Linked DNA regions of Homo sapiens: region 1 is linked to region 2. A link means that fine-mapping ties the variant in region 2 to the expression of a gene that starts in the linked region. Tissue or cell type: whole blood. Region 2 holds a variant in brackets; the other region holds the start of a gene. All regions are shown on one strand. Distances are between the middles of the regions.

Evidence for each region. PIP is the estimated chance that this variant, and not a neighbour inherited with it, causes the effect.
Region 1: BMP2K starts here. The variant in region 2 is fine-mapped to the expression of BMP2K in whole blood (TOPMed, PIP above 0.99).

What each region holds. Positions count from the first base shown.
Region 1 is chr4:78,774,946-78,777,556 of GRCh38, reverse strand. It overlaps BMP2K (BMP2 inducible kinase), which reads right to left and starts at 1,207. Exons shown (of 16, transcript NM_198892.2): 1 at 836-1,207. The coding sequence starts at 1,013. It overlaps BMP2K-DT (BMP2K divergent transcript), which reads left to right and starts at 1,587. Exons shown (of 1, transcript NR_186689.1): 1 at 1,587-2,611. RefSeq lists silencers at 303-503, 865-1,534, 1,625-1,874 and enhancers at 78-708, 1,341-1,971.
Region 2 is chr4:78,483,738-78,486,500 of GRCh38, reverse strand. All of the region lies in intron 58 of FRAS1 (Fraser extracellular matrix complex subunit 1), which reads right to left. Among named protein-coding and RNA genes, the nearest start is that of ANXA3, 67 kb to the left of the region's middle. The variant T/C (reference allele first, on the strand shown) is at 1,141.

The DNA of each region.
Region 1 (2,611 bases), 290 kb before region 2:
TCTACAAGGCAATTATGCCAGAAATACAAAACTAAATTCTAAGTTCTTCTTTTAAAATGGAGTAAACTTTTTTTGTAAGTAGACTTCTACCTGCCGTCATAACCTGTTCCAGATCATGAAGGACCGACCACAAAACCTCGTTAAGTGAAAGTTAACCTGCTTTTATATCACCTTTTAAACTACTATCAAAGAGACATACTGGGAGGGCATGAATAGCACCTTGTCCAACAGAGAAGATTCTAAATAACAAAGATAAATGGGCTCCAAGTTTACCTGCTCCTCAGTGCAACCTACTAACTGAATTTAGAGCAAAGGATCACCTCCAACACGCACACATGCACACAAATACATTGTTTTTCAACAGATGACTGAGCTGCAGCAAAGCCCAGCTTGACACCAGGGGCTGCAGGGTCCTATGCCCTGCAGCGCGGGTGGAGGCTTAGATGAAAAGGCCAACGCATGACACCCGTCTGAGCCACAGCTGGCAGAACGGAGCTTCAACCCTGTTCGATCTGACCCTCTAATGAGTCACTGGCCCAATCGTAACACCAACCCACTTCCTAGCCCGTCTACTACCTATTTTCTCGCGTCAAAAAGCACAGAAAATGATTTAAACTAGGCATGAGAGAACTGTGCACCGGCCGGGGCAGCCAGCGGCAAGAAAAGCCAGCTTAAGAGAGAAAGCCCGAGCCACTCTTTAGGAGCCCCCGCTGGCCCGGCAGCAGAGGAAGAATGGGGTATAAGAGTCAGTCCGGAGGGCGAGGACCCGGAGAAGCCGCCGCCACACCCCAACCCTCCCTCACCTGCCTGTCCGAGCCTCCCCGGGCGCCCGTACCTTCGGCCAGCGACTCTTCCAGGGTGACCTGGTGGCGGCCGACCGCGAACACCCGGACCCCCACGGACGAGCCGCCGGAGCCGCAGCCGGCCCCGGCCCCGGCCCCGCCAGCCCCGCCACCCGCCGCTCCGCCGCCGCTGCCGCCCTCCGACTTGGGCATCCGAGAGAACTTCTTCATGGTCCCGCCGGCGAGCTGGAGGGCGCAGGGAGCGTGCAAGGGCAAGTCCCCGGCCCGGCGCGCAGCCGGGCGTCCGCGAGGGGTCGCCGCCCCTGGCCCGTCCGAGCGTGCTGCGGCCCGCCAAGCCTCACATTCCGCGCTCCCCAAGCGCACAGCCTGGGCCCCGCCGCCCGCTCCGCGGCTCCGCTGCAGCTGCCCGGCTCCCGCAGAGGGCGGTGGGGAGGGCGGGGACGGGGCGGGGCGCGAGGGGGCGGGTCCGAATCCAGGGGCGACGCCGCCGCCTCCGCCAGTGCCCCGGGCGTCCCGCCGCCTCACTAAGCGCCTGGAGCGCGAGCCGGGGTAGAGGAAGAGAGCGAAAGAGGCTGGGCGGCCGGCCCCTCCAGGGAGTGGGCTAGACGTCTCAGGCCACAAACCCGCAGGACCGCAGCCCGTCGCGCCGCCGCCGCCCCGGCCGAACCCGCGCCGCCCGCCACTCGTGGCCGTTGGCGGGGGGGGGGGGGGGGCGCTGCTGCCAACCGCTCACTGAGGCCGGGCGACCCGCGCAGGCGCGCTGCCCGCGCCGCCGGAAGTGACGGTTCCGGCTCTTGTCACGTGGAGGGGGACCAAGGGAGGTGATTGTGGGGGTTGGGGACTAGGGCAAAGTCGGGGGTCCCGGGTCCGGGGTTGCGCCGGGAGGGTACTGGCCAGGCCCGACTTCAAGCAGGGAGGTGGCCCGGGACTGGCTCCCGCGCTGGTCACGCACCGGGGTCCGTCATCTCGACCGGGAGTCGCTGTGCCACTCTAGGGGCTTAAAAATGCCGCCAACAACTTTACCCCTGCTGAGGAACTTCTCGCTTCGTTTCTTAGCCAGTTTTCCAGGCCTTCTCCCTTGAGAGTCTCCTTCCGCTCGCCCACCCTGAGCGTAGGAGGTGGGAGCAGGACGGAACTGGAGTGGATTCCAGTAACTGGACTTCTAAACCGGCTCGGTGTCGTCGCGCTCTGTAGCGGACGCTTGTGCTGGGAAGCGTTTTGCAGTTTATAAATTACTTAGGAGTACTTTAAACATCTCACGCCTGCTGTACCACAGCCATGTGGGGGTATTCAGAACAGGTATTAAGGTCGTTTTGCAGACCATTCATCACTCTTGGCTAAAAGAACTTAACGGAGTCGCCCAAGGTCACACAGCTGGCTCGTGGTAATTGGGGACCATTCTTTGATTCATAATTTTGTGCTTTTGGCCACCCTGAAAAAGTAAGGTCAGATCGTTGAAAAACGGGCAGATTTAAGGCTGTTTGGAAGCAAAAGCGACCACTGCGTTCCCCTCAAATCAAAGAGATTTGCACCCCCTACCAAAAAAAAAAAAAAAAAAAAAAGCCCTGTTGTATCAATTTCATAAACTGCAGGAGTCTCCCGACTGCAGGGTGAAGCAACAAAATAAATATGGGTGTAAAACATTCAGGAGTGGTAGGGAATGGCAAACTGTAGAGCCTGTGTAAAGAGAGCAGCCAATTCTCAGCTCCAGCCTACTTTTCCACAAAAGAAGATAGGCACACACACTGTGCCCAGAGGTTCCAGTTTCTTAAGAGAACCAAAAACCTGGAACTGTTTTCTAATGTGGC
Region 2 (2,763 bases):
GAAATGGAGGTTACCTGCTGATGGCGCATGGGCTCACATTGGGTATAACGCATTTTCTGTCAGCACTGCTCATAGAACACTTATTGTGCATGGCCAGTCTACAATTATCTTTTTATTTATGGAAGTCTTGTATCCTAAAATAGATTATGGGACTCTGCTCTCCACTACTCTGTAGCCCATACCATGTTGATCACCAGTGCTAGGTATAGAAAATGTCCTATAAACACTGTTACCTCGCTAATCTTCTTAGTAACTGATGAAGTGAATGTAAACGCCAGTGCCTGGAATGCAATAGCCTCTTTACCAGCAACAGTTAAGCCAGAAATTTAGGAGAAATCCTGCCTCTGTTTCACGAGTTAATGAGTATGTTTGCCACAGATGCACACACAGGAGGGTGATACCGTAGCAGCTACAGGACTTTCTAATGCTACCCAGTCAGCATTACTCATGCCCAAGCCCGAGTCTAATTCCAGGTACCAGCACAGCAAAGGTAGGTGAGAACAGGTAAATGTTATAAGATGAGCTGCTTAGATGATTTAAGATCCTGAAATCAGCCTAGTGGGAAAAGAATGAAAGGAGCTAAGATCACTGCAGAAGGCTGAGAGTTGACTTTGTAAGACTCTTGAGTGACGGTTAGCATTGTTATACAGAGGGCAGTGGCCAGCTGAAACTGAAATGTGAAGAGTCAGCGTAGTAGGATATGAAACCAGAAGACTGGACTTGGATAGAGCAGACTTGGATTTTAATTCCAGCTTCATCACTTTCTCTCTGTGTAATCCTACTCAAATTATTCAAACTTGGTTTCACAAGTTAAAGGTCTGTTGCAAGGATTAGGGATAATATGTAAGATCTTTCTACCCTAGAATGTTCACACTGAATGGACTCAACAAAAGTTCGTTATTACTAGGAAGAAAGATAACCAGAAGAAGTAAGTACTGAATGCTATGCTGAGTTACTGAAATAGGTTTTGGGATTTCTTTCTCTGGGATAAGTTATTGATTAAACACATATTGCTGTAGCTTCTCTGAAAGAAAAAGAAAAGCTGTAGCTTTTCTGAAAGAAAATTTTTGCTTAACATATCAGTTTCCTAAGTTGACAAACCCAATGCTCATCAATAAAATACTGAAAAATATTTAAATA[T/C]AATTTTGTGTGTTGATCAGTGAGGACTCTATATGTTACTGGAGTCTTGTTGGTAAGAGTGATAAATGCCAGGTGTGTCAGGAAGAAAAGAAATCAACATGTAATAAAATTTACTGTGTGCCAGGTATTACAGCAGGCATTTTCACATATTTTATCTAATTTAATCCTCACAACAATCTTGTAAGGTAGTTATTTTCATTATTTATAGATGAGCAAAATGAGGCTTAGTAACCTTAAGCTTCTGGCCTAAGGCCAAAGACCTAGGAAGTGGTGGGGCTAGGATTATATTTCAGGACTTCAACTTTGTATTCACTTTCCACTTCATCAGAGGGAAATTAATGGTCATTTCATGCAAAAGAATAAGAAACAATTTCAAGAATAAAACGTATAGCTGAATTTTCTTCTTTCTGTTTTATCTTCCTCTTTACTAAGAAATAAAATTGCCACTGATTCTACTTCTACACCAATTAAAACCATGTAGTATATAATGCAAGGAGGATGAACTTGGGGTCAAAAGTCCTAGAATGCATGCTGGTTCCTCTAGATACTAGACATTGGGTGACCTATTTCCTCTGATTCTCAGTTTCCTTATCCACTAAATAGAAACAGAAGAAAGAGCACGGGGTTATGAGCAAGTGAGATAAGGCTTAATGGATTGCTTTGTAAACTTGGAAGTAACATGCAACATGAGATAATATAAGTGTCATAATCTTGTTCATGGTGTAAAAGTTACCGTTTTGTGAATCACAAACCTAAATGTAAAACTTAAGGCTATAAAACTTCTGTAGGAAAATAGGAGAACATCTTTGTTACCTTGGGTTAGGCAAAGATTTCTTAGATACAACACTAAAAATATGATCCATAATAGAAAAATGATAAATGAGGCTGCTTCAAAATGAAAAATGATTACTCTTAGGATGTTTGTTTACAGAACAAAAAGACAAAAAACAGACTTGGATAAAATATTTGCAAAATATAAATCTCTGTCCAGAATCTACAACAATGCAATACAAGTAGGAAAACAACGCAATTTAAACACCAAAACCTTGAACAACCCAAATGTCATTCAATAGGTGAGTAAACAAATGGTGGTAAATCCATACAATGAAAAGCTAATCTCAATAAATGGAATGAACTACTCACATATGCAATAACATGAATGAGTCTCAAATGCATTTTCTAGTGAAAGAAACCAGATGCAAAATCATAGATATTATATGATTCCATTTTTATGAAATTTTGGAAAAGGCACAACTTTAGGGCCAGAAAACAGATTAGTGGTTTTCAGGGCTGGTGACTAAGGAGACACAGACGACAAAGGCACATGAGATAATTTTGCAGAGTGTTGGAACTGTTCAACATCTTGATTGTGGTAGTGAGCATATCACTGTATACATTTGTCAAAACTCATAGAACTGTACACTAAGGACGATGGACTTTCATTTATGCAAGTTGCACCTTCATAAACCTGGCTCTAAAACAAATTACTATCATTTTGGATGCATGCAAGTATGTGTATGTTTGTTGTATGTGTGTGTGTGTGTATCACACATACATAATTTTATATATATATATATAGAGAGAGAGAGAGAGTTTTTTTTTTCTCCTGAAGGATAAACACAC